Linked DNA regions of Homo sapiens: all the other regions are linked to region 2. Evidence: fine-mapped expression QTL. A gene starts in region 2. Each other region holds a variant in brackets. All regions are shown on one strand. Distances are between the middles of the regions.

Region 1 (11,084 bases), 22 kb before region 2:
AAGGCGAGGCGGGCGCGGCAGCGCGGAGGCCGGCGACGGAGGAGCCCAGCACACGGGGCACGCAGCGCAGCAGAGGCAGCATCGCGGAAACGACTGCGAACACGTGCAGATGCAAAGGACAACCCAGGCCTAGGCGCCCCGCGACCTGAGGCGCCGCCGGAAGCCCCGCCCCTGCCCGGAAGCGCTTCCCGCGCCGGCGCTCTGACGACCTAAGGCCAGCGGGCGGAATCGCGCCCTCTGCTGGAGACTCCGGTGCAGCCCGGGAAGCCTCGAATCCGGATTCCGGAGCTTTCTTGCTGCGCTGCCGAGTCCGCTGTCCGAAGCTGTTTAATTCCCTCTAGTGGCCGCTTACCCACTTTCCACCTGCTGTTCTCAAAGCACGCAAGGCTTTTGGGCTGCGTGGAATGCACTCTTGTCTCCCGCCAGCTCTCACCAGACCCTTCCACGGTCACTTTCCTCTAGGAGGCTGTGGTGTTATGATATATATATGTATTGGTTTTCATCCACAGTTCCTGGGTCGTAACTCCTATAGCCCTTGTTACAATGTTCTGTGATAATGTTGGGTGTGTTAGGCCTCAGGAAACAGACTCTCCCCTTCTCCTGCCCTCCTTTTACCTGCCCCAAAGCAGGACTCTAATCTCCTTCCACATTTCTGATTATGGGTCTTAAGTCCCTTCCCAGAGAAGGTCCCACCATATACCCTGGGGGAAGGGATGCTGATGTCCAGAAGCTTCCATAAAAACCCAAGAGGAGAGGGTTTGCAGAGCCTCTGACAGCTGAATACGTAGAGGTTCCTGGAGGGTGGTGGCCCAGGGTAGGCAAGGAACCTCGGAGCTTCTTCCCCATTCCCCACCCTGCTCATCTCATCTGTATCCTTGGTCATATCCTTTATATGAAACCGGTGAATGTGTTTCCCTGAGTTCTGTGAACTGCTCCAGTGAGTTAACATAATCCAAAGAGGGGGGTCGTGGGAACCCCAACTTGAAGCGGGTTGGTCGGAAGTTTCAGAGGCCCAGACTTGCCATTGCTGTCTGAAGGTGGGGGCGGTCTTGGGGACTGAGCCCTCAACCTATGGGATCTGACACTATCTCCAGGTAGATACTGTTGGGATTGAATTGGAGGACACCCAGCTGGTGTCTGCTGCTTAGTGTGGAGGGGAAAAACCCAAACCTTTGGCCACATAAGTCTTCTGTGTTGATTGTTGTGTTGTGAGAGCAAAGGAAAGTCTGAGGGTTTTCCTGAAAGAGGCCTTCTAGAACCTTTTTTTCCACCGGCTCGGAACTCATGCTTGTGCGCACCCAGCCCATATGCTTCATTCTCTTTTCAACAGGAACCTCCTAGCGTTGCTGCTTTAACCAGGTTAAACCCAACCAGACTGTGACATCCTCAAGGGCAGGATCCATGATTAATTTTTGTGACCTTCCCTCTCTGCACCTCCAACCTTGCATCCAAGTTCTAATGGAACATCATTTTTCTGGGGACAAGAAGCCAGCTTATATCATTTAGATAAGTCCAGAGGCTTCCATAAAAACCCGAGGACAGGGTTTGGAGAGCCTCTGATAGCTAAATACATGGAGGTTCCTGGAGGGTGGTGGTCCAGGGACGGCATGGAGGCTGGGAGCTTCTTCCCCATTCCCCACCCTGCTCATCTCCTTATCTGTATCCTTGGTCATATCTTTTGTATGAAACCGGTAAATGTGTTTCCCTGAGTTCTGTGAGTTTCTCCAGTAAATTAATATAACCCAAAGACAGGGTTCAGATTTATTAAAAATCAACAATCCTACCTTCCCAGGATATACAGGACATATAAGCTACTAAGAAGGTATGTCTTACTAACTCATGGTAAGACTAACACTTAATATTTTCTAAATAATTTTCTATGAATAATGGAAAAGAGATGCAAGAAACAAGCCACACACATCATATACAAGATTCATTTTTAATGGATTTGATCGTCGGGTGCAAATTTGAGCATTATTTACAAGAGCTTTCTGTAGAGTTATTTCTGTTCAAATAAAACCAGACTCTCAAAATACAACATAAGCCTGAACCTACTTGATTTTTTTTTCTCCCTCTAGTTACCAAGGAATATCGTATCTCAGATGCATGGCCTACTATCACACTGGTCTTTAAAGAAAAAAAAAAATGCATGGCCACAGTTCCAGGCAGTTCCTGGTAGCTGGATTTAGTGGATTTATATATGACAGTACAGTACATCATCAGTTTCACCCACAGGGCAGAACTTGCCTCCATTCAGGCATCTCTTTACAACTGGCAGCAATGCAGCATTAAGGGTTTTTAGCCAGGACCTGCTGTTTGCAGTCCTGCCCCTTGTAGTGTTACTCTGGGTGTTGCACACTCCATGATTACTAGAAGACAAACACCTGAGGCATGCAATCTGCTTGGAGTGCATCTATTTACATGAAGCTGCTCACGGGAGCTGGTGATTCTTCCAGATATGGGTTTCGTAGGTTGGCAAAGAGTTATCACACCATCAGAGATTTTACCAATGGAAAGAGAGTAGCTGAAGATTATATTGCAATGTTATTGTGAAACATTTAACTTTCTTAAGTTTAAAGTGTACTATCTCCTGCAGCTCAATATAAACAACGATGTATTTCTTTGTAGCAGTATGTGGAGTCAGAATGGGTTTTCCAATCTGATTTAATCCCTGAGCAGCTATGTTAAAAGTTAACTTTTTAAAAAAGCCCAATAAAAAACTAAATACTGTATTAAAACTCTACCACAATGTTACAGGGATAAACTTATTTCTGTACAGAAACATTAAAGCTACTTAGAAGCTGTTTACATCCTTTGCCTCTCAGAAAAAAAATATACATTTCCGGAAACTGTTCAGGTACTTAAGCTGGACATAAATTACCCCAAGTTTTTTCTTTTTCTTTCTTTCTTTCTTTTTTTTTCTGAGACCGTCTCACACTGTCGGCCAGGCTGGAATGCAGTGGCGTGATCTTGGCTCACTACAAACTCTGCCTCCCAAGTTCAAGCAATTCTTGTGCCTCAGCCTCCCCGGTAGCTGGGATTACAGGCGTGTGCCACCATGCCCAGCTAAGTTTTCTATTTTTAGTAGAGACGGGGTTTTGCCATGTTGGCCAGGCTGGTCTTGAACTTCTCAAGCAATCCACCCACCTCAGCCTCCCATCCCAATGCTGGGATTACAGGCATGAGGTGATCCGCCCGCCTTGGCCTCCCAAAGTGCTGGGATTACAGGTGTGAGCCACTGCGCCCGGCCACCCCCCAATTTTTTTTTTTTTTTTTTTTTTTTTACCAGCACTATGAATGATTAAAAATACAATATTTTTCTTACTAAGTAGGACTAAACATTCTAATCCCCTACTGGAAAACAAAAAACAAAAAACAAAAACTGGAAAACTTTTCAGAAAGTCAGCAGTGGTAACAAGTCAGTAAGTGGAAGAACTGGTTCAAAGTTTAAGAATTCAGTAAGATAAGGTATATAGGAGCTGTCAGATCTTCTTTTGCCCACGTATAACCATTTCTGACAGACAGCCCTAAACACTAGCTGAGAGCTTGACTGCACAGGACCACGGCTAGTGTTGGAAATAAAGACTGAGCCGGACTTGACATACACAACTCCGGACAGATGGGACCCTGGAATGGGGCTGCTCCATCAGGCCACAGCTTCCAGAAAGAGAGCATCCATGATCTCTGAAGAGCCTCTTGGGCAGCTTGGCCCCTGGTTATAACTATGATTCATTCATTAAGAAATGACAAAACACCCCACAGATGTATTTGGACCAAGTAAGCACAATAAAAGAGCTAAATCACGGCTTCTTCTAGGGCAAAATATTATCTGGGGAAAGATTACTTGCTTCTGATAATTAAATAGCTAAGAGGAACCGTTAGTGCCTTTTCTCTGCTCAGAATATCAGAACAGGAACAGACTGTGGATATCCTCCAATTCCCTCTGACAATGAGGGTTAGAGAGAGGTGCCTAGCAGTTAGAAAGCAGCAAAGCCAGATTGTCCCAAGTCCCTACGAAGAAGGAAAAAATATCATAGAAAATTAATAAGATGCAAGAATAAGTGTTACAGCTCTAGCTCTTTTAGAATTTGTCCAGCAGGTCTTCTAGACTTCACTGAACTGCCCCCCACCCCCCCCGCCCACACACCAAAAAAGATACAAGAATGTAAGCCCAGATGTGGTGTGGTATCTGGCATAAGCCAATGTTCTCTGGGTTCTAGGTACCCCTCTCCCCTCCCCCACCCCCACCCCCTCTGACCAGGGGACTGCCCGAAAAGAAACAGCTGAAATGGTACACAGTCACTCCTCATGCCCGCATGTTCACTGGTGCCCAGTTAGAGAGAAAAATGGCAACTGTGTATGTGGGAGTCACCTACACACACAAAACACTGATAGGTCAGTTTCCCATGTCTACACGTGACAGGATTCAGAAGGTACAAATCAACCTTCACCCAGGAAGCTTACATGTCTCCTGAAAGCACTGACAGGGTCACGCACTGAGGACCAGGAGGCTCCTTTACTGGTCTCTGCTTGGAGACAGACACAGAGTGGTCCACCCTGAGACACAAGCGTTCAGTAGGGATCGCCATCCCAGGAGGTACGAGATAACAGCACCTCCCTCTGGAAACTTCTACAGAAGTCAGTTTTGTTTTCTATTTTAAAACTGCATTCAGAGAGACATTAAACAAGAACTAAGGGCAACATCCAAGCTCCGCAACCTCCTGTGGCCCTTCCAGAAAATCTCCCTCAGTCACAAGAACTTGGGATATTGCTGTACTTCACATCATATGGCAAGCAGTAACATTCAGCCTAACGGCTCCCAACTCACTGTACGTGTG[TCGTG/T]CGTGCTCCAGGCATAGTTCTGGGTACTTTCCATTCCTTTTCTCTAAACTTTATGAACCCAATTTTATAAGGATTATTATTATTACTCCCATTTGGCAGATGAGAAAACTGAGGCTCAGGTGTTAAATTAAGTCAAAGTCACCCAGTAAGAACCAAAAGCATAATTTTGAGGTTTCCAGGTACAAATGATATGTCCATGTCTATATGGTTCAGTCCCAGGAGTTGAGCAAAGATGCTTTCACGCTCCTGGAAGTCAGGCACCTTCAGCTGATTCCAAGGCTTCTCTAAGCGCCAACCTGGAAGCCTGCTGTAAGGACAACTGTAGTCCAAGCTCCCAGGGACCAGTGATTCTGGCGGCATCCTGGGGCGGCTCAGTTTCTGGCGGTTCTCAGCTTCCTCCTAAAGTACTCAGGGGCAGCCTCGTACAGCCACTGTGCATCTATGACGCAGAGGTCCCGCATGTAGCACTTGTTGGTGTAGAGCAGCTCAGTGTACACGACGCAGGCCGGCTTGCAGTGGAAGAGGACAGACGACGGGTGGATGGCCACTGGCTGGTGGGTGTCCGTGGTGGCATAGGTGCCATCTGGCTGAAGCTCGGCGGTGCTCATGAAGAGGCTGTGAGCCAGGCAGCGGCGGACACTCTCCACGTCTCCTCGGGATGATGCGATTGGCATTGACATCTGTTTCGGGAGAAAGCGAGGAATGGAGCCGACCCCACACGTAAACACTGGTCAGCACTACACAGCGTGTTGGGGCAACTGGACCCACTGGGGCAAAAGCAGCCCACATTGTGAGCCTAACGATGTGGATTCTGACATTCGGAGGTGGTCACCAAGGATCAGCAAGGTCAGGGGAAGAAGGCCCAGCTGGAGGAGCACGGACCAGAAACAGGGAAACTACCGCCTGTGAAGGTAGGGCTGGGAGGGAGGTGCTCACATTAGCCACCAGACCACAGGCAGGTTGGGTGACCCACCCCTCACCTAAATTCCATCAGGACGGCCCGGAAAGGAAAGGCCCTTCCCTCTCGCTTTGACCATCTCACCATCTCCTCACTCCGATTCACCCACCTGCTGCTGCCAAGCTAATCTACCTAAAGCACAACTCGAATCACTCTTCATCCACTCAAATACCTTCAACAATGTCTCTACTGCTCCTTGCAAAACAATGCAAACTTCCCGTGGTGAAGCCACGAAGGAGCCACCCTGAGCTGCTCGCCTGTCTTTCCTCTCACCGCTCTTTTTCTTTCTTTCTTTTTTTTTTTTTGAGGCTGAGTCTCCCTCTGTCACCCAGGCTGGAGTGCAATGGCGCAATCTCAGCTCATTGCAACCTCCACCTCCCAGGTTCAAGCTATTCTCCTGCCCTAGCCTCCCAAGTAGCTGGGATTACAGGCGCCTGCCACCACGCCTGGCTAATTTTTGTATTTTTAGTAGAAACGGGGTTTCACCATTTTGGTCAGGCTGGTCTTGAACTCCTGACCTCAAGTGATCTGCCCGCCTTGGCCTCCCAAAGTGCTGGGATTACAGGCGTGAGCCACCGCGCCCGGCCTCACCACTCTTCTTTAGACACTCCATGGTCCCCCATAGCTGGCTGCCTTCTCTTTCCTCGCCCCGTTTCATGATTCCTATCTGTGCCTTCACATTTGCTACTCTTAGTAGAAATGCTGCCTGTCTCATCAGAGGAAATGTCAGTCACCAGTCAATGTCCTTGTTCTACTGCTCTTGATGAGTGGGGCATGTAACCTACGCCCCTGGGCACAGATGAACAAACCAGTGGTACACACACGCTGGACCTAAGCTGGCCAGCTTTTCTCTTCCAGGCATCTTTTAGGTTTGAAACTGGAAAACTTGTCAATCTCTGCTGGGCTCTTGAGTGGAGGGGCCATGCAGAGAAATCACTTCCATGCGGAGGTAAAGGTGAGAAAAGGGAAGGAGGCACGCAGAGGGCACTCAAAGCAAGAGAAGCAGCAGGTCCAGAGAAAGTGGCGGGCCTGGCTCCTGCAGGCTTTTTCTGGTTCCTGTGACTCTATTTCCTGCCTATCGGTTCTCAGAGATACCTTTCCATCCTTGGAAGAATCTTTATTTTGTCCTTTATGATGGCTCTAGGGTTTCTGTTGTTGACAATCAGCTGATCTATGCCTGAAGAAGATACTTTTTTTTAAGAGACAGGGTCTCACTCTGTTGCCCAGGCTGGAGTGCAGTGGCACAATCCCAGCTCGCTGGCAACCTCTGCCTCCTGGGTTCAAGCGATTTTTGTGCCTCAGCCTCCTGAGTAGCTGGGGTTATAGGCATGCACCACCACGCTCAGCTTAGTTTTGTATTTTTAGCAGAGATGGGGTTTCACCATGTTGGTCAGGCTGATTTCGAACTCTTGGCCTCAAGCAATCCACCTGCTTGGGCCTCCCAAAGTGCTGGGACTAGAGGCATAAGCCAGCCACCACACCTGGCCTGGAAGATACTCTTTTATCTCCTTATCTGTCAAGATCTAGCTCAGTTGTCACCACCTCCAAGAAGCCCCAGAGGCTAACTGGTGGTCTCTCCTTCCAGACTATCAGCTTTACCACTCACTGGCTGAGTGATTTGGGGCAAATTATTTAACCTGATTAGGCTTAGTTTCATCATTTGTAAAATGGGAATAACAAAAGAATCAATCTTATAGGTTGAAATGAGGATTTTATCCTTTGGGTTAAGGTCTGAGTTGAAAAAGAAAAAAAAAGAAATGAGGAGTTTAAATAAGGCAGCCACATAAAAAGTACTCAGAACAGTGCTGAACAAACACTTCATGAATGATAGTGATTATTTTAATTTGATGGCCTCCTGGCATGAGTGTATGTACGTCAGGTCACCATCTAGATTATTACTTAGTTACTGAGTAGGCATGTCTGTAAAGTCTCAGGACCTTACCAGTGCCTGACATATAATGAGAGGTATCCCTGGCCACTACAGGGTCCTAAATTCACAACTAATAGAGAAGCACCGTTTCTACTGTCAATGATAAATTGAGAAAACTTATGAAGCCAAGAGACAGACTGGCAGGAAACTGTTCAAATACAAAAGCAGTTTAAAAAAATGTGTGAAAGACAGAATACAATAGGCTACTATGAGAAGAAACAGCTCTAGTGCCAACCGTAGGCCGTTGGCATCAGACACAGGCCTGGGTACAGGCTGTGACTGTCTCCCAGCAGCGTCCGCACTGAGGGGGCACAAGACATTCACCACAGAGTACTCAGGACAGCAGCAAACACACGGACACTGTCTCAGTGATCAACAGCAAAAGAACACTTCCGCTACCCTCTATCTCTGACATAAAATGTGGAGTGTCATGCGAGCATTAAATATACCATGACAGCTCTTTAAAACACCATGTACTCTAAGAGGGAATAAAAAGCTAATATAAAACTTTGTGGGCCGGGCACAGTGGCTCACACCTGGAACCCCAGCACTTTGGGAGGCCAAGGCCAGTGGATCGCCTGAGGTCAGGAGTTCGAGACCAGCCTGGCCAACATAGTGAAACCCCGTCTCTACTAAAAATACAAAAAATTAGGCCGGGCGTGGTGGCTCACGCCTGTAATCCCAGCACTTTGGGAGGCCAAAACCATCCTGGCTAACATGGTGAAACCTCGTCTCTACTAAAAATACAAAATATTAGCCGGGTGTGGTGGGTCATGCCTGTAGTCCCAGCTACTCGGGAGGCTGAGGCAGGAGAATTGCTTGAACACGGGAGGCAGAGGTTGTGGTGAGCCAAGATCGCGCCACTGCACTCCAGCCTGGGCAACAAGAGCAAAACTCCGTCTCAAAAAAAAAGAAAGGAAAAAAAACACTTTGCGGTGGACACTTTGGCAATATCTAACAAAATCCAAATTCCCCCATCTAGAAATTCATTCTGTGTGCACCACAGCACATACGGAGGATGGTCACTACAACAGAATCTAAATGACCATTATTAGAGGCTTAAATAAACTGCACTGAATACAATGAAATGCTATGAAATCACTAAAATGAATGAGCTAGACACATGCAGCACTGAAAGCCCAGCCACAGGAAGGATTTGAGAAATACGCATGTGAGGCCAGGCACAGTGGCTCACACCTGGAATCCCAGCACTTCGGGAGGCCGAGGCGGGCAAATCACCTGAGGTCAGGAGTTCGAGACCAGTCTGGCCAACGTGGTGAAACCCCGTCTCTACTAAAAATACAAAAATTAGCCAGGCGTGGTGACGCACGCCTGTAATCCCAGCTACTCGGGAGGCTGAGGCAGGAGAATCACCTGAACTCGGGAGGCAGAGGTTGCAGTGAGCGGAGGCTGTGGTGAGCCAAGATGGTACCACTGCACTCCAGCCTGGGTGACAGAGCAAGACTCTGTCTCAAATAATAAACAAGAAAGAAAGAAAGAAAGAAATATGCCATGTGGAAGAAAGGAAGTTGTGGAACATGTACCTCATATGCACGTATCCGTTATGTGTGTGCTCACACACAGGCACAGAGACATGCACAAAAACATACATACACAGAAACAAATTCTAGAAGGAGCTACCCCAAACTGTTAACAGTAGTTATCTCTGGAGGGGCAGGATTATGGGAGACTTTTAAACTTTCTACATTATAAATCACTATTTTCTGCATTGTGTCAAATACTATACACAACTTTGGTAATCTAAAAGGAAATAATGCAGATATTCATACTTAAAAAAAATCTTATGAAGAATTCTAACACTGGAAAATGCTTATAAAGATTATAAAACCAAATATAAATTATACATATAATTTACTATGTAAAAAAATACAATAAAAACTAGGCTATTAGGAAATAGGCTAAACTACTGAATTGTGGAATTGTGGGTAACTTCCTTTTTTCTTATTTGTGAAATTTGCTACAATGAGAAATCCTTTTATAATCACTAGCAATAAGCAACTTCAAAATTTCTACCTTGAACAAAGTGACAGCTTTGTCACCCACAGAACACTAGGACCAGACGATACCTTTAAGCAGATGTCCCTCAGCTGTGCTCTGACTTCTGCTACCAGCGTCATATTCTTGCTGTTGACAAAATTCTCTTTGCACCAATCCTGAATAGGAGAAAGAGTGATATCACAATCCACTCATTCACCATTTATATGTTCACAGAGACGGGGTCTTGCTCTGTTCCCTAGGCTGGAGTGCAGTGATACAATCATAGCTCACTGCAAACCAATCCTCCCACCTCAGCCTCCCAGATAGCTTGAACTATCTGCACATGCCACCATGCCCAGCTAACAATCCTCTCATCTCTATAGAGAAAATATAACAACATTTTTAGAACACAGTTGAATTCAGAGAAAAAACTTCAGGTGCCAAAAAGAAACGTAGGAAAATATCTTTATATCAAAAAACATGAACTATAAGAAAAGTGTTAATAATTTAAACTAAAGAAAAACTTGAAGTTTCCCAGATTGGGATATTTGTCTCATCATACCCAATAAATGATTAGAATCTCTAGAATTGATTTTAAAAGTTCTACAAGTCATTAAGAAAAAGACCAACGACCCAGTAGAAAAATGGACAAAGGATATGAACAGACACAGAAAACAAAACAGAAATGCCCAGTCAATTTATGTAAGACTTCTTTCTTTTTTCTTTTTTTGGAGATAGATAGAGTCTCGCTCTGTCACCTAGGCTGGAGTGCAGTGGCACGATCTCGGCTCACTGCAACCTCTGCCTCCCAGGTTCAAATGATTCTCATGCCTCAGCCTCCCGAGTAGCTGGGATTACAGGTATGCACAACCACGCCCGGCTAATTCTTGTATTTTTAGTAGAGACGGGGTTTTGCCATGTTGGCCAGGCTGGTCTGGAAGTCCTGGGCTCAAGTGATCCACCTGCCCTGGCTTCCCAAAGTGCTGGGATTACAAGCTTGAGACACTGTGCCTGGCCCTGGGCAAGTTTTTCAACTGCACGAAGCTTCGTTTCCATGACTACATGTTTCATGAATATAAAAAATAATAATTATAGTGCTCATTTCTTAGGATTACTTTACTGAATAAATGAGATCTTACATTAAGAAGTGCTTAGCATGGGGCTTGGCACAGAGTAAGTACTCATTCATTGGTACGCACTATCATTATTAGACATATTACTTAATCAAGTTCCAATTAAGTTTTGATGGGTTGGGAGTCACTTAAGTCTTGTTGACTTAAACACATTCGGAACAGAGACCAGAATGACACTGCTTCGGTACTGAAGCATTTCTGAAATGCTGTCTGGCTTTCTTTT
Region 2 (11,084 bases):
ATGACACAACTCACAAAGTTGTTTTATTCAGTAGCTTTTCTTTTCAAGGCTCAATGTTCTCACTACCAACTGCAAGATAAAAGAGAACTTTTCAGGAATTTGCCCCCAGCACCATACCTGGTGGATCTGGAAGACGGAGACAAGCGCGGCGTGCAGGTAATCATTCTGAGGCTGTTTGGTGTAAAACACCTGGATCGGATGCTGCCGACCCTCTAGGTAGAGGACGGGGGCGCCATTGAAATACTGAGAGAACAGGTCCACATCCATCGTAGCTGACATCACAATCACCTGCATAAGAGAACGAAGAGGAGGACCAGAAACAAATAGTGGGAAGGCCTTTCCGTGTCCCTCTCGAGCCCCAAAAGCAGATGATTGAGGCCTGTGCCACCCCCATCACAGTTTACTTTCTTCCAAGGCTCTGAGCAGAACAGGCAGAGGAAAACACCCTGCTAGAGCACACAGGTCTGTTTCCTTTCCTTTCCTTCTTTTTTTTTTTTTGAGATGGAGTTTCACCGGGCACGGTGGCTCACGTCTGTAATCCCAGCCCCAGCACTTTGGGAGGCCGAGGCAGGCGGATCACGAGGTCAGGAGATCGAGGCCATCCTGGCTAACACGGTGAAACCCCGTCTCTACTAAAAATACAAAAAATTAGCCAGGTGCGGTGGTGGGCGCCTGTAGTCCCAGCTACTTGGGAGGCTGAGGTAAGCAATGGCGTGAACCTGGGAGGCGGAGCTTGCAGTGAGCTGAGATCGCGTCACCACGCTGCAGCCTGGGTAACAGAGTGCAAAAAAAAAAAAAAATCAAGACGGAATTTCAGTCTTGTTCAAGTGACTCTCCTGCCTCAGCCTCCCTAGTAGCTGGAACGACAGGCATGTGCCACCATGCCTGGATCATTTTTTGTATTTTTAGTAGAGACGGGGTTTCACCACGTTGGCCAGGCTGGTCTCGATCTCCTGACCTCAGGTGATCCACCGGCCTCGGCCTCCCAAAGTGCTGGGATTACAGGCGTGAGCCACCGTGCCGGGCCAATTATCTGGATACTTTCAGATCATATTTCTGCCAACTCCCTGAAATACAAGTTGTCTATAAAGTTATGCTATTTAATGAACTTTCACTTTTTTTTTTTTTTTTTTTTTGAGACAGAGTCTCGCTCTGTCACCCAGGCTGGAGTGCAGTGGTGTGATCTCAGCTCACCGCAACCTCCGCCTCCTGGGTTCAGGCGATTCTCATGCCTCAGCCACCCAAGTAGCTGGGATTACAGATGTGTGCCACCACACCCAGCTAATTTTTATATTTTTAGTAGAGACGGGGTTTCACCACGTTGGCCAGGCTGGTCTCGAACTCCTGACCTCAGGTGATCCACCGGCCTTGGCCTCCCAAAGTGCTGGGATTACAGGCGTGAGCCACCGCGCCCAGCCAGGCCTGTTTCCTTCTGTGTGTTACGCATACTTTCAGGGGAAGTTTCCCTCATACTTTCAGGGGAAGTTTCCCTCATACTTTCAGAGGAAGTTTCCCGAGTTCCTTTCTCCTCTTCTGTGCAGCTTTCACCACTCCAAAGAGCACATCTGTGTGGATAGTCCGTTCGTGAGCTTCATCCAAAATGACACAGCTGTATTTCCGAAGCAAAGAGTCTGAAATTGCTTCACGCAGAAGCATGCCATCTGTCAGAAACTTGATCCTGGTGTCTTCTGAGGTGACATCATCAAAGCGCACTGTATAGCCAACCTGTGCAGGGAAACAATTTATTCAGTCACCAAACATTTCTTGAGCGCCCACTGTGTCCGGCACTAAGTTGGGCACTTGCACTACCACAGTGAACAAGACCAACACCAACGCTTCCCACTCCCTTGGGAAGCATGCAGTCTAGCTGCTGAGAGAGACAATGGTCAAGTTTACTTTAACCGCAATTAATGTAACTATTACAAGGAATATTTAAAATTAACCTTCTACCTCAAGCTATTTAATAGTTTCATGTGGGCCGGGTGTGGTGGCTCACACCTGTAATCCCAGCACTTTGGGAGGTTGGGGCAGGCAGATCACGAGGTCAGGAGTTTGAGACCAGCCTGACCAACATGCTGAAATCCCGTCTCTACTAAAAAATACAAAAATTAGCCACTGGGTGTGGTGGCACGTGTCTGTAATCCCAGCTACTCGGGAGGCTGAGGCAGGAGAATTGCTTGGTTGGAGGCGGAAGTTGCAGTGAGCCAAGATTGCGCCACTGCACCTCAGCCTGGGCGACCGAGCGAGACTATCTCCAAAAAAAAAAAAGTTTCATGTGAAGCTATGTACAGATATGAAAAGACGTCTAAGGTATTTTTAAGTGAAATGAGTACACACACACACAAATAAATCTGTCTTATATACAGTTCTGAGACTCATTCTCAATACTCACATATACACTGGCATAATGCTTACAATTTTTCTAGAATGATATATAGATAAGAGAGTTAAGAGAGGTTACTGAAGGCTTAAGATGTTCAAGGAAAGCAACTAATTTATCCAACCTGACGACAGATTTTGAAAGCAAAGCACATGGGACCAATAGAGCCCCTGATCTCTCAGGAGCTGGTAAAGAACTCTCGGAAGAATAGGCAAGAAAGCAGCTCACTATGTAAAAGGAGTCTTGTTTAGAAAAATAAAAGGCAGTGGGCATGGGGAGAGAGCTGTTGAGTCAAGAAGTACTAATAGTCAAGAAGGAACCAGGTACCAGCTTCCCAAGTTCAGTTCTCTTCTCATCTGAGACTCTAGTAGCAAGAGAGATGGCAGCTACTCGACGAGGCTGGGTCACAGCAATGATGCCCTGGCGGCTGATCCCTCCTTCATACAGGTACTGAGGGATCTGAGTTGTCTTCCCAGAGCCAGTTTCCCCTAGGAGAGAGGGGGAAAAAAAAAAAAGGCTCACTGAAATGCAAACTGGGGCTCGGCACCAGGGCTGGCACCTATAATCTCAGCACTTTGGGAGGCCGAGGTAGGAGGCTCTCTTGAGCCCAGGAGTTCAAAATCAGCCTGGGCAACATAGCAAGACCCCGTCTCAACAACAACAACAATTAGCCTGGTGTGGTTGCATGTGCCTGTAGTCCCAGCTACTAGGGAGGCTGAGACAGAAGGATCATGAGGCCCAGGAGTTCAAGGTTACAGTAAGCCATGATTGTGCCACTGCATGCCAGCCTGGGAGATAGTGTGAGACACTGTCTCAAAAAAAATAATAAAAATAAAAAAAGAAATGCAAATCGGCTGGGCACAGTGGCTCATGCCTGTAATCCTAGCACGTGGGGAGGCCAAGGGAGGAGGATCACTTGAGCCCAGGAGTTGCTCCTGGGCAACATAGGGAGATGCCGTCTCTACAAAAAATACAAACATTAGTTGGACGTGGTGGTGCACGCCTGTGGTCCCAGCTACTCTGAAGGCTGAGGTGGGCATATTGCTTGAGCCTGAGAGGTTGAGGCTGCAGTGAGCCATGATCACACCACTACACTCCAGCATGGGCAACGGAATGACACCCTGTCTTAGAAAAACAACAACAACAAAAAGCAAATTGACATAAATTTCACCAAACAAACAGCTCAAAGTCAGAAGTAAAAGATAAAATACCCTGTGTTGGTAAAGCCTCAGGAGAATGGGCATTCAGGTATGTATACTGCTGGTGAAATTAGCTGGTTAATTGGTATTGTTTCTCAGGTGGTCAAATTATGTTTTTTAAATCTTTAAAATGTTTATATCCCTTGACCCACAATTCTACTTGCAGAAATTGATTCTAACAAAATAAGTAAACATGTGTATAAAGATACAGCTTCAAAGAGATTTTATTCAATTTTGCTCCTGACAGAAAAAAATTGGAAACAATATAAATGTTCAAAAGGTAATTTACATAGTTAAAATATAAAATAAAATACAACCGTTACATAGATTTCTGCATACTGACTGACATGAAGAGACATCCATTCATGCACTGCTGCCTTCAACTCCTGGCCACTCCCCAGCCTGCTGCCTCCCTTCAAACCCTCTGCCTCTGCCCACACTATGGGCAGAACACCTGCCCTCACACTGCCTGCCTCGCAAACTCTAAGATGAGTTAGGCCTCAAACACGCTCCCCTGGCTGCACAGTGGCCCTCCTCTGGGCTCCGTAGTGCCTTGTTCATCTCTCTTCCAGCACTGACCATCCTGTGTTGTACAGAAGCGTTTAAATGTGTCCGTCCTCCTCCAACACCAGAAGGGAAGCTCCCAGAGGGCAGTGCTCTGAATGTCCCTCTCGTGTACTTGAGTATTTTGCATACAATAAGCACGCAGTAAATGTTACTTCCTACCCTGTGTGAATTCCTTTAACAGTGCCTGATTAGAGCAAAGAACTCAGTAAACCTGCGCTTCCTTCCCCTCCCTCTAGCTACCACCAGGCCTCTCTGACTTCAAAAAGTCCTCCAGTCCCATGATTTGTGGGTTTTTTTCCCTGTCAGTCTGTCAGCCCCCTCTGACTGCTCATCCTTCCTGACCCAGATAAGAATCAGACAAAGGATTTGATTATTCTGCAATCTTCCTGCTGAATCCACTAGGCAAAACCCCAAACTTTGATCCATGTCTCTATCTTTCATGCTCCTATACCAGGGCAACAGAGCGTTGCTAAAGTAAAATACAAAATGCTTGGAACCAGAAGTGTTTTGAACTTTGGATTCTTTCAAGTTTTGTAATATTTGCATTATACTTACTGGCTGAGCATTTTAAATGTGAAAATCTGAAGTCCTAAATGCTCCCAAATCCAAAACTTTTTGAGCATCTGATATGACACTCAAAGGAAATGCTCCTTGGAGCCCATTCTTGACTTCGGATTTTCAAATTTGGGATGTTCCACCTATAATCTGGCTGTGCAGAAGCAAACCTGAGTTTATAGTGTAGCCGAAATGCACCTAGGCACCACTACTGCCATCGATCTTTTTTCTTGTTTTTGCAGCCTGTCTCGTCTCCATCCTCCCCAAGGGCCCACTTGAAGCCCAGTGACTCCCATTCTGAGCAGGGCTCCTGAACCTGTCTCACAGAAGTGGGGTTCTAAAATGTGGTCTCTCCCTAACTGCCCCTAGAAGCCCTTCTGCAGTGCACCATCCTTACATCCGTTCTCTAGCCCTGCAGCCTCTTAGCCTTCCTCCTCTTCCAGACCAGCCCTGCATCTAGCCCTTGTGGCCAAGTTCCCCCGTCCCCCATGCCTCCTGATCTTTGCTCTGTTAGCTCGATTCTATCTTCTGCCTCCCTCCCTACTGAGTTCTTCCCCTCAACCTCTGAATACAGATGGTCCCTGTCTTAGAACTGTTTGACTTCAGGATGGAGCAAAAGTCAAAATCGTACAGTAGAAACTGTACTTTTGAGTACCCACACAACTGTCACTTTCAGTATGGTATTCAATAAATTGCATGAAATATTCAAGACTTTATTATAAAATAGGTTTCATGTTAGATAATATCACCCAACCATAGGCTAATGTACATGTTCCGAGCACACTGAAAGTAGGCTGGGCATATTAAATGCATTTCCAACTTAGGATATTTTCAACTTATGAGGATGGGTGGATTCATCCACACATAACCCCATCCTAAATCGAGCAGCATCCATAAAGTTTCTCTCAGCTTCCCTCCTTTTTCCTCAAAACAGAAGCCTCTTCCCCCTGCTTTCAGCCCTCAGCTCAATGACAAATCAGCTGTTACCCACACAGCTTTGTTGAAATAGCTCTCGATGGGATGGATCCACGATCAATAGTGTCAGAGATAGTCTGTGAAAGTCATGAAAAATTTTATGAGAGGAAATGTATGCAAGAAATGTTTTACAATTTAAAAGTGATTAGGCCTCCTGAATGCTTTATAAAATGTCACCATAACTCTTAGCTGTAGAACTTGCCTGCTTTGCAGCTAGGTAAAACCTAGGACACATGGAGCTAAATGCTGAAATAAGCCAGACCTTAACTGCACTTCTGTCTAAGTCCTAGGCTGTACACCTAGCACATAATTAAAATCCCGAACTTACCAAGGTTTTCAACAAAGGTAAAGGTTGCTAAAAGTTAACAGTGTAACATGTATTTAAAACTATTGAAGAGACACTTTATGTGCAAGGTGTGTAAGGAAAGTAAAGTACACTTTCGGTAAAAAGATTATCAGGAGGGATAAGAATGCACATTTTTACCTACGTTAAAAGGTTAAATAATTGTTTTGAGGGGGCCAGGTGCGGTGGCTCACGCCTCTTTCTATATCAACCAATCGGGCCTAGTAAAAAGCGCTGCTAAAAAACGTAAAGAAAAGGCTAAAAAGCTAAGGGAGTACCAAAACCACCAAATGGACTCTTGGTTTGAAAACAAAATCATAGCATGGGTCATCCCATTCCTGGGCCCTCTCCTAATAATATGCCTGGAACTAATGTTCTTACCCTGCCTAATTAATCTTTTTCAAAGATTTTTAACTGACAGGATCATGGCAATTTCACAAACAACTACCCAAAAACATCTACAGACGGCATTGCTCCTAGTCAACCCGAGACCAGGAAACTCTCCATCCCCTCGTTGCAGGAAGTAGCCAGAAAGAACATGCCGTCCCTCCTCCTTTTTATAACTATAGGGTCTGGATTGACAAAGCAGGAACATCACCATCTTGGACAAGCCCCTCATTCAAAAGTTCACCTTAATAAAAAACCGCCTAAATCCAAAAGGTATCAGCCTAATGGCTAAGGTCAGCACGACCATAAACCACAAATAACATCTCCAGCCAGAAACATTCCAAACTCCTCCCCGACCAGAGACATGTTAAGGGATAACCCCACTCTGGCCGGGAATATGCCAGCCGGGAATATGCCAGCCGGGAGATAAACCCCCTCGGGCCGGAAAAATGTCTGCCCCAAGATAACATCCCCTGCTCCCAAAGAGTCCAACCCTGCCAAAAACTTCTCCACACATATAAACATTCCAAGCTTGTGATAAGCCCCCTCACCCTAACACCAATATATACTCTTAGTCTGTAAGAGAAAGGGCTCCTGACCGAAATCGGCCAGGAGCGCCTCTCAGGTTTTAACTAAAGAAAAGCTGTCTTTAACTGCCAGCCGCGTTTCGTGTTTCTTTCCTTTTTCTTTAACTCTTACAAATAGCTCACATCCAAATCCAGTGGGCATCACATCCAAGTCCAGTATAACCGGACTTGACTGCTGCATCTGCTCACTCTCTATTCCTTTGACTAGCAGCACTCATGGGTCTCCTTCCTCTCTTTGGCTGCTCATCCTTTCCGTCCTTCAGTATCTCCTCTAACACGTTGGGGATCATAAGCCCCATGAAATCAGTCCCTGCCCCACAACTCTGCCTCTTTTCATGCACCAGAAACTACACCTTCCCTTTCGACCGGAATGTGTTCAGGTTCCCATCTCTCAAACGGGCTTTCCCCCCTGCCTAGAATGCCCTCCCTCCCACACGACCTCCCCAGCCGCCTCCTCACAAACCGGGTCAGATCCACTCTTCTAAGATCCGCAAGCCCCCGGTACGTTTCTCTACCCTTTTACGCGGAAGGTGAGTCTTTGCCTACACACGTTGGTCACTCTCACCGGGCTGTCCAGCGCCTCCAGGGCAGGGCTGCCGGACTCTTCTTCGAGGCCCCTCTCCAGGTCTGGCCCAGAAAAGGTATTCAGGTTTGTTGAAGCCACGAACGAAAGGGATTGAGAGGCATGTAAGAAAAACTGCTCTAGCTAAGCCACGGACGAAGTGCAAGGAAGAGCCCGCCGGCGCGGCCACTCACCGATGAGGACCGCGTTGTCCAGGTTTCGGAGCTGGGCCAACAGTTGCCCCCGCGCTTGGAAGATGGGCAGACTCCGGCGCTGCAGCTCCACAGCTTCAGGGTAGGGACTGGCCGAGGGCTGGGCCAGGGGCGGCTGCTGCCTCCGGCCTCCTCCTCCTCCTCTGCCGCCGCTGCCCGCAGTCAGCAGCATCACCACTTGCCTCCCGGGAGGGAAGGACCCAGCGCGGCTCGGAGGTCCAGAGCCTGGCCGGAATCTCTTGGCCGGCGGGAAGCCCGCCTCCTCCGGCATGTCGGGAGGGCACCGCGGCGGGAGGCGCAAGCGCCGAGAGCTCCTGCCCCCTCTCAGGTGCAGACAACAGGAGCACACCGCCCCTTCCTCGCCGCCACGTGCTGGCGGCTCCCGGCGACCACCGATGACCTCACGGCCGCCCCAGTCTTTAGAAAAAGGGACTGCATCTCCCAGCATGCCTTGGGGGCTTGGGAAGGCTTTCACTTCCTGGGGGTGGGAAAAGCAGGGCCTGAGGTACAACCAGGAAAAGGCCCGGAGCTACAACCGGGAAACACAGGATGTAAGGTTCCGTGGGACTGTAGTCTTGGTTAACGAGGTTTTTCTCATTGTTTTATTTTTTTTTTTTGAGATGGAGTTTCGCTCTTGTTGCCCAGGCTGGAGTGCAATGGCGCGATCTCGGCTCACACTGCAACCTCCGCCTCCTGGGTTCAAGCGATTCTCCTGCCTCAGCCTCCCAAGTAGCTGGGGTTACAGGCGTGCGCCACCGGGGCCCGTCTAATTTTGTATTTTTAGTAGAGACAGGGTTTCTCCATGTTGGTCAGGCTGGTCTTGAACTCCCGACCTCAGGTGATCCGCCTGCCTCGGCCTCCCAAAGTGCTGGGATTATAGGCGTGAGCCACCGCGCCCCGCCCATTGTTTTGTTCTAGTAGCATTACTTCTTTTCAGTAAACCCGCGTTTTCCCCTTCTCTGTCCAAATAACAGTCACTCTTCAAGGAAAGTACTTAATTCTGTAAAATCAATGAGAAGCGCAAACGTGCATTGTCTAATCCTCTAAACAACTTATAAGTTATGTGGTATATACTGGTTATTAGATTATCTCTAATTTACAGATTAAGAAATTGAGTCATCTTAGTCATTCAGATGTCCCCAAATCATAATTTTGTGATCATCTTGTGTTACAGAAAGGAAAACCAATTCTGATATACATGAATTTAACTCAGAAAATGACTCCTCCAACGGATGTGGTCGCCTCCAGTAATACAAGCAGAGAAAGGAGGGAGTTCAATGAAATTAAAATTGTCTTTTATCTTTCCTTTCCCCCAACCATTCCAGCCAGACTCTCAAGTTCTCTACATGGCTGTGCAACCCCATCACAGACACTTCAGTGAAGATTCAGAACTGCAGCAGAAAAAAGTAGGATTATAACTAGTTCTTCCTTACCCTCCTAAAAGTTCTTAGATGATTTGCTAATTTACCACGGAGAATGCCAAGTAGCTGTTTGCTCTTACAGGAAATGTGATTTCCAGAGAATACACCGTAAGCTTCAGCTCATGTGAAGGGTATCTTCTGAAGCTCGTTTCCATGAAACTCGCCCTGTTAAATATCTCCCTTCCCGTGATTCGTGAGAGAGCTAGTCTAAAAACAAAAAACCTCCCCTTTGCTCCAGGTCGGAGATAATTTTCCTCTAGTTGCTGACAGTTTGGTGACCAGGCATTACTGAAAATGTGCACGTTGAACCAGCAGCAGATTTGTGTTTAAGAATAAACTGACAAATTTTCACTTCCTACCCTGAAATATTTAGAAAGGCAACCCAAAACTACAAGGGATAATAAATGTTAACTCTCAAATTATGGACTTTGAGTAAAGACATCCCAGTCCTTTTTCCCAGTGTGCTTTCCAGAGTAACTTAAGGTAGGAGTCCGATGTTCCAAATGATTACAATAATTTAGGTAATGTAAATGGGTGGACTTATTTCTTGATGGAGCACATTCCACCTCTACATGCAGCCCCTAATCATTTCTAGGCAATGGCTGTCATGTAGACCTATTATTGCCAGATCTTCCAATTTTCTCAAGAAAAGCCAAAAGTGAAGATTTTTATCTGTCAATGTTAAATACAGGTTTAAACTTAAAAAAAAAAAAAGTACTGTCAAAACAAAGCACATAGGTAGGTAACAAATCTGTAGGTAACTCATCCATAATCTCTGGCCTAATGATCCAGCTATTCTATAGCCTCAAAGCTAAGAGGACCAAAGAGTGGAAAAATTAAGTCCTATATATGCATCAAGCCATGCTGCTCACATTTCTCCCATTGGTAGACTGAAATCTGCTGTTTCTCCTGAAGAAGTCTCTTGGGGTTCACCAGCTTTCATATGTAGATACTGACAAGCTAATAACTATTCAGAGAATATCCTGGTTCTTCCTTCAAACGACGAAGTGTCAGACACATTTCATTTTTAACTTGTCTGGGATGGTCTGTGGACTTAACTGGTCTGATCACGACCATAACAGCTGGTGGTCACCTTTGCTTTTCCGACCACCAAATTACTGCCCTTGATCATGTTCAGTTTCCCTCTATCCCACTTTCAGAGACAACCACAAGCTTCAGCAACTAGGCTCAAGCTTGCATGCATACACTTTAATCCCTCTATAATTAAAAATACCAGATAATACTTTGCTGATCAATAAACAAAGGTATTTATTCAGCACCCATGTGCCAAGCACTGTGCTAGGCACTGTGGTGGATACAAAAATTAAGACATGGTCCCTGCCCTTAAGGAGCTTACATTCTCATGAGGGAGACAAGACTAATATACATGTACCAGCTAGGAACAGTACAAGACAATATATAATTTGGCGTTAAGAATGTCATACAGACTTGAAGCTTTATAGGGATTCAGAGACAGACAATAAAATAGGCCTTAGAGTCAAGATTTTTTGAGGAATCAGGAACAAGGCCAGGCCTTGAAGAACTGAAGAGACTTAAGTTGAGGTCCCTGTTAGGTAGAAGTGGGAGTAAAGTTAAGAAAAAAACAAGTATGCATATAATGTAGGGGCTTACTAAGAAGTCACTGTGGATTTCTGAGCAGAGGAGTGACTTGATCATACAAGATTCAACAATTTTATTGCAAACTCATAAAATATGTTTAAGTAGCCTGGAGACATCCTACAGAACACAGAAAATAATGGCAGGATCATGACTAACAACATAGCTGGAACTCACCTGTCAAAGAAAAACAGCTACAACATAAAACACTGGCAGGATAGATGACAATAGTTCTAGGAAGCCCATTACTCAACATGGCAATAGCTCCAATGCTTCCTT
Region 3 (5,000 bases), 130 kb before region 2:
TTCATTTTCCTATTAAGGAAAATAAACTGTTCGAAGTTGACCTTGTTTTCTGATGCCAGCTCCAGCATTGATCTTTTAGAGATAATGTAGCTATAGTATTGCTGAATTTGTTGGCCATAAAGACACAGCAAAAGAATTAAAGTAGGAACAGGCCAGGTGTTGTGGCTCACACCTGTAATCCCAATACTTCAGGAAGCTGAGGCGGGAGAATTGCTTGTGCCCAGGAATTTGAGACCAGCCTGGGCAACATAGTGAGACCCCTGTCTCTACAAAAATTTTTTAAAAAGCCAGACACGGTGGTGCATGCCTGTTGTCCCACCTACTTGGGAGACTGAGATGGGAGGATTACTTCAGCCCGGGAGTTTGAGACTACAGTGAACTGGCACTCCAGACTGGGTGACAGAGTGAGACCCTGTCCCCCACACCCAAAGAAAAAAAGGAAGAAAGTAGGAACAAAAGAAGCATAAGAAAATAAAAACAATATGAAAATAAATGGGAATTTATCAATAGTCTTGGTAAATGTAAACTGATACCTATGTTTAAAAGAGATTATCACATTGGATTGTAAAAATCTAACTTTATGTTACTTGTAAGAGCTATGCCTAAAATCAAACCACAAGGTAAGACTGAAAATATTAGCCAGTTATAGTGGTGTGTGCCTGTGGTCCCGGCTACTTGAGAGGCTGAGATGGGAGAATTACTTCAACCCAAAAGGTTGAAGTTGCAGTGAACCATGATCATGCCACTGCACTCCAGTCTACGTGATAGAGTGAGACTCTGTCTTAAAAGAAGCCTGGGCGCGGTGGCTCATGCCTATAATCCCAGCACTTTGGGAGGCTGAGGTGGGTGGATCACCTGAGGTCAGGAGTTCGAGACCAGCCTGGCCAACATGGTGAAACCCTGTCTCTACTAAAAATACAAAAATTAGCCAGGCGTGGTGGCCACGCGCCTTGTAGTCCCTTCTACTTGGGAGGCTGAGGCAGGAGAATTGCTCAAACCCAGGAGGTGGAGATTGTTGCAGTTACCTGAGACTGTACCACTGCACTCCAGCCTGGGCGACAGAGTGAGACTCCATCTCAAAAAAAGAAAGAAAAAAATACTGAAAATAAAGGGATAAAAATATACCATGTAAATTCGAACCAAAAGAAAGCTGATATACCAAGTGTAGTATCACAAAGATAGGATAAGGGGGAAAAGCCACTAATAGAGATAAAGAGGGATCCTATCTAATAAACAGTTCATCAATAAGATATAATAGTCATGAACTTGAATGCACCTTACATAGTCATGAAATGCATAAACTAATAATGACAATTACAAGGAGAAACTGACTTTCACAAATATAGTAGCAGATTAAAATTGACCTTTACAGAATACAATCAGAAAAAATTATTAGTAGAGCTATAGACATTTTGAACTATCAGGTTAGTTATTTAGTTGTAATTGACACACAGAACTCGGTATCCAAGAGTGAGATGGTATCGCATACAGTACTAGAACATAATAGTTAAGAGCTCAGCATTTAGTAGCCTGGGTTACCTTGGGCAAATTACTTAATCATACTGTGCTTTGATTTTCTCAACTGTGAAATGGGGATAATAAGCCCACCTTAATAGTCACCATATGGCTATTATGAGGAACATATAAATTAATCCCTATAGTAGCCACTGTATGGCTATTATGAGGAACATATAAATTAATACCTATAAACCTTTAGGATAGTACCTGGGACAAGGTATAGTTATTTTTAGATACATTATCTTAGAATTGAGGTTACACAGACCCAATTCTGTAACTATGGGTTATTCAGGTATTTACGCTAAAATGATAGTTAAAATGCTTGGACATGAAAAAAATACTCATGGAAAAAGTAATTACAAAATATTTAGAATGATGTGAATAATGCCAGATCTTTAAAAAAAAAAAAAAAGTACAAACTGAGCCGGGCGCAGTGGCTCATGCCTGTAATCCCAGCACTTTGGGAGGCTGAGGTGGGTGGATCGCCTGAGGTCAGGAGTTCGAGACCAGCCTGGCCAACGTAGTGAAACCCCATCTCTACTAAAAATGCAAAAAATTAGCTGGGCGTGGTGGCGGGCGCCTATAATCCCAGCTACTGGGGAGGCTGAGGCAGGAGAATTGCTTGAACCCAGGAGGCAGAGGTTGCAGTGAGCTGAGATCTTGCCATTGCACTCCAGCCTGGGCAACAAGAGCAAAACTCCGTCTCAAAAAAAAAAAAAAGTACAAACAAAATAAATGGAAATGAATAATATAAACATAGGAATTTGTGAAATAGAAAAGCAAAAGAACAATAGAGACTATCAATATAATGAAAAAATGGAAAAACTATAGACAAATCTCTGGTAAGACTGATCAGGAAAAATGAAAACAAAAATGAGAAATCAGAAGTGAGTCCGAGTGTAGAGGCTCATGCCTGTAATCCTAGCACTTTGTGAGGCTGAGGCAGAAGGATCACTTGAGCCCAAGGAGTTGAGGCTGTGGTGAGCCATGGTGGCTCCACTGCACGCCAGCCTGGGCAAGGGAGCCTGTCTTAAAAAAAAGAACATAACTACAAATCAGTAGAAATTTAAAAATAACAAATACTATAAACTGTCACACAAATAAATTTGAAAACAGATGAAAAAATTTCTAATAAAAGATAATTAGCCCAAATTATTCCAAAACAGGAAAGGTAGTCAGTAATTATTAAAGAAAGTGGATCTAGAGTAAAAAATCTTATTGTCTCTTGCCTCCTCTCACCAAAAGATATTAAACTGTTGATTTTACAGGTAAGTTTTTCCAGACTTTCTGGAAAGAGCAAATTCTTATATTTTACGAACTCTCAGGGAATACAAAAAGAGAGAAAGCTCTCCAACTGTTTTTATGAGACTAGTAGATCTTCACTACAAGTGAGCAAACACATAGAAAGGTA[G/C]TATGAGAAGAAATTATAGATCTGTCTCAGGAATACAGAAGCTAAAATTTTCAACATCGTAGGTAAAATAAAGGGGGAGAAATACATCATGACCAAGTAGGGTGTATTCCCAGAAATTTATCGGAAAATCTATCATTGCAGTGTACACGTGAAATGATTGTAGAAGAACAGCATTATATTCATTTTGGATTCAGAGAGGTATTTGAGAAATTTGACCACTCAATAACTTAGTAAAGGGCTATTTATCAAACCTTTGGCAAACATAGTTAAGGGTGAATATTTAGCAGCCTTACCATTAATGGTGGGAACATTCTGGGGCAGACCCATGCTCAGTAATTCAGAAATGAGGCATAAGAACTGGAAAGAAAGCAACGAGACTGATTCAATTGTCTGTATAAAGAAACCAGAGAATGTACAACAGATTGTTAGACCTAATAAGAGTTCAACAATTTGAAAGTTGTTCAAACAAAATCAACATACTAAGATAATTGTTTTTCTATGCCCCAGTGATAACCAGTTGAAGAATGCAGTGGTGGAAAAAAGATTGATCCTATTCACAAGAGTAAAAAAAAAGAAAAAAAAGAAAAAGAAAAACTAGTTAGCTACCAATATAGCTAAATAAAGATGGGCAGGGTCCTTATAGACTACATAATAAATGAGGACCTGAATCTGTATTTTCCTGAATGAAAAGATAGAGCATTGGGCCGGGTGCAGTGGCTCACGTCTGTAATCCCAGCACTTTAGGAGGCCAAGGTAGGGGGATCACCTGAGGTTAGGAGTTTGAGACCAGCCTGGCCAGCATGGTGAAACCCAGTCTCTACTAAAAGTACAAAAATTAGTCGAGCATGGTTGCGGAAGCCTGTAGTGCCAATCTCTCAGGAGGCAGAGGTTGCAGTGAGCTGAGGTCGTGCCACTGCACTCCAGCCTGGGCAGTAGAGCGAGACTCTGTCTCACACACACACAGCATTATAAAGTAGACATTGTATCCCCAAATTTTTAAATTTTACTTAAATTTCAATAGGGTTTAATTAGGAACTTGATAATTCAGTTCTAGAAGTAGACTTCATATAGAGAAGTGAAGGAACAGGAAAATACTTAGCAAAATTTTGAAGACAAGATGAGGAGACTTGGCCTACCTACCAGATAGCAGGACCACAGTAAAGCTACTATAATTAAGGTAGTTTGTTACTGGTTTAGGGATAAACAAATGGATCAATAAAACAGAAAGCCCAGAAACAGACCTATATATGTGTAAATTTGATATATGACAGGTGGCATTACAAATCAGTGGGTGAAGAATGGATTGTTAAAAAATACCCTTTTTGGCTGAGTGTGGTGGCTCGCGCCTGCCATCTCAGCACTTTGGGAGGCCAAGGCAGGTGGGTCACCTGAGGTCAGGAGTTCGGGACCAGCCTGGCCAACATGGTGAAACCCTGCCTCTACTAAAAATGCAAAAATTAGCTGGGCATCCGCCTGTAATCCCAGCTACTTGGGGGGCTGAGGCAGGAGAATCGCTTGAACCTGGGAGGCGGAGGTTGCGGGGAGCCAAGATCGCACCATTGCACTCCAGCCTAGGCGACGAGTGAAACTCCGTCTCAAAATAAATAAATTATTATCTGGCCATGTGCGGTGGCTCATGCCTGTAATTCCAGCACTTTGGGAGGCTGAGGTGGGCAGATTGCTTGAGCTTAGGAGTTCAAGACCAGCCAGCACAACATAGTGAAACTCTTTCTTTACAAAAAATACAAAAATTAGCCAGATGTGGTGGTGCATACCTGTAGTCCCAGCTACTCGGGACGAGGCATGAGAATCATGAGAATCACTTGAACCCAGGAGGTGGAAGTTGCAGTGAGCTGAGATTGGGCCACTGCACTCCAGCCCGGGAGACAGGTTTATTTCTAAACCGGTAACGAACTATCTTAATTATAGTAGCTTTACTTCAAGTCGTACTATCTGATAGGTAGACCCACTCTCTCCACCTTGTTGTCTTCAAAAAGATTTCTTTCTTTCTTTTCTCTTTTTTTTTTTTTTTTTTTTTTTGAGTCAGGGTCTTGCTGTGTTGCCTAGGCTG

Alleles and levels. Alleles are on the strand shown, and positions count from the first base shown. SD is a standard deviation of normalised expression in the study named.
As copies of TCGTG replace T in region 1, the expression in thyroid of the gene that starts at base 8,161 in region 2 goes up (small effect, 0.23 SD a copy in GTEx).
With allele G in place of C in region 3, the expression in sun-exposed skin of the gene that starts at base 8,161 in region 2 is lower (small effect, 0.32 SD a copy in GTEx).

What was found. PIP is the estimated chance that this variant, and not a neighbour inherited with it, causes the effect.
Region 1: its variant is the best candidate, but not a certain one, in a credible set for the expression of DHX33 in thyroid (GTEx, PIP 0.51).
Region 3: its variant is the best candidate, but not a certain one, in a credible set for the expression of DHX33 in sun-exposed skin (GTEx, PIP 0.57).

Annotation. Positions count from the first base shown.
Region 1 is chr17:5,438,992-5,450,075 of GRCh38, forward strand. DHX33 (DEAH-box helicase 33) reads right to left here. Exons shown (of 12, transcript NM_020162.4): 11 at 9,818-9,904; 12 at 1,926-5,522. The coding sequence ends at 5,214. It overlaps C1QBP (complement C1q binding protein), which reads right to left and starts at 164. Exons shown (of 6, transcript NM_001212.4): 1 at 1-164. The coding sequence starts at 82. RefSeq lists silencers at 1-160, 139-321 and an enhancer at 381-560. The variant TCGTG/T (reference allele first, on the strand shown) is at 4,839.
Region 2 is chr17:5,460,822-5,471,905 of GRCh38, forward strand. DHX33 (DEAH-box helicase 33) reads right to left here and starts at 8,161. Exons shown (of 12, transcript NM_020162.4): 1 at 7,750-8,161; 2 at 2,708-2,868; 3 at 1,498-1,725; 4 at 118-288. The coding sequence starts at 8,038. It overlaps DERL2 (derlin 2), which reads right to left. Exons shown (of 7, transcript NM_016041.5): 7 at 10,433-11,084. DHX33-DT (DHX33 divergent transcript) reads left to right here and starts at 8,271. Exons shown (of 3, transcript NR_135644.1): 1 at 8,271-8,318; 2 at 9,093-9,173; 3 at 9,271-9,539. RefSeq lists enhancers at 7,213-7,795, 7,585-7,804, 8,185-8,254.
Region 3 is chr17:5,338,725-5,343,724 of GRCh38, forward strand. All of the region lies in intron 5 of RABEP1 (rabaptin, RAB GTPase binding effector protein 1), which reads left to right. Among named protein-coding and RNA genes, the nearest start is that of RABEP1, 59 kb to the left of the region's middle. The variant G/C (reference allele first, on the strand shown) is at 2,930.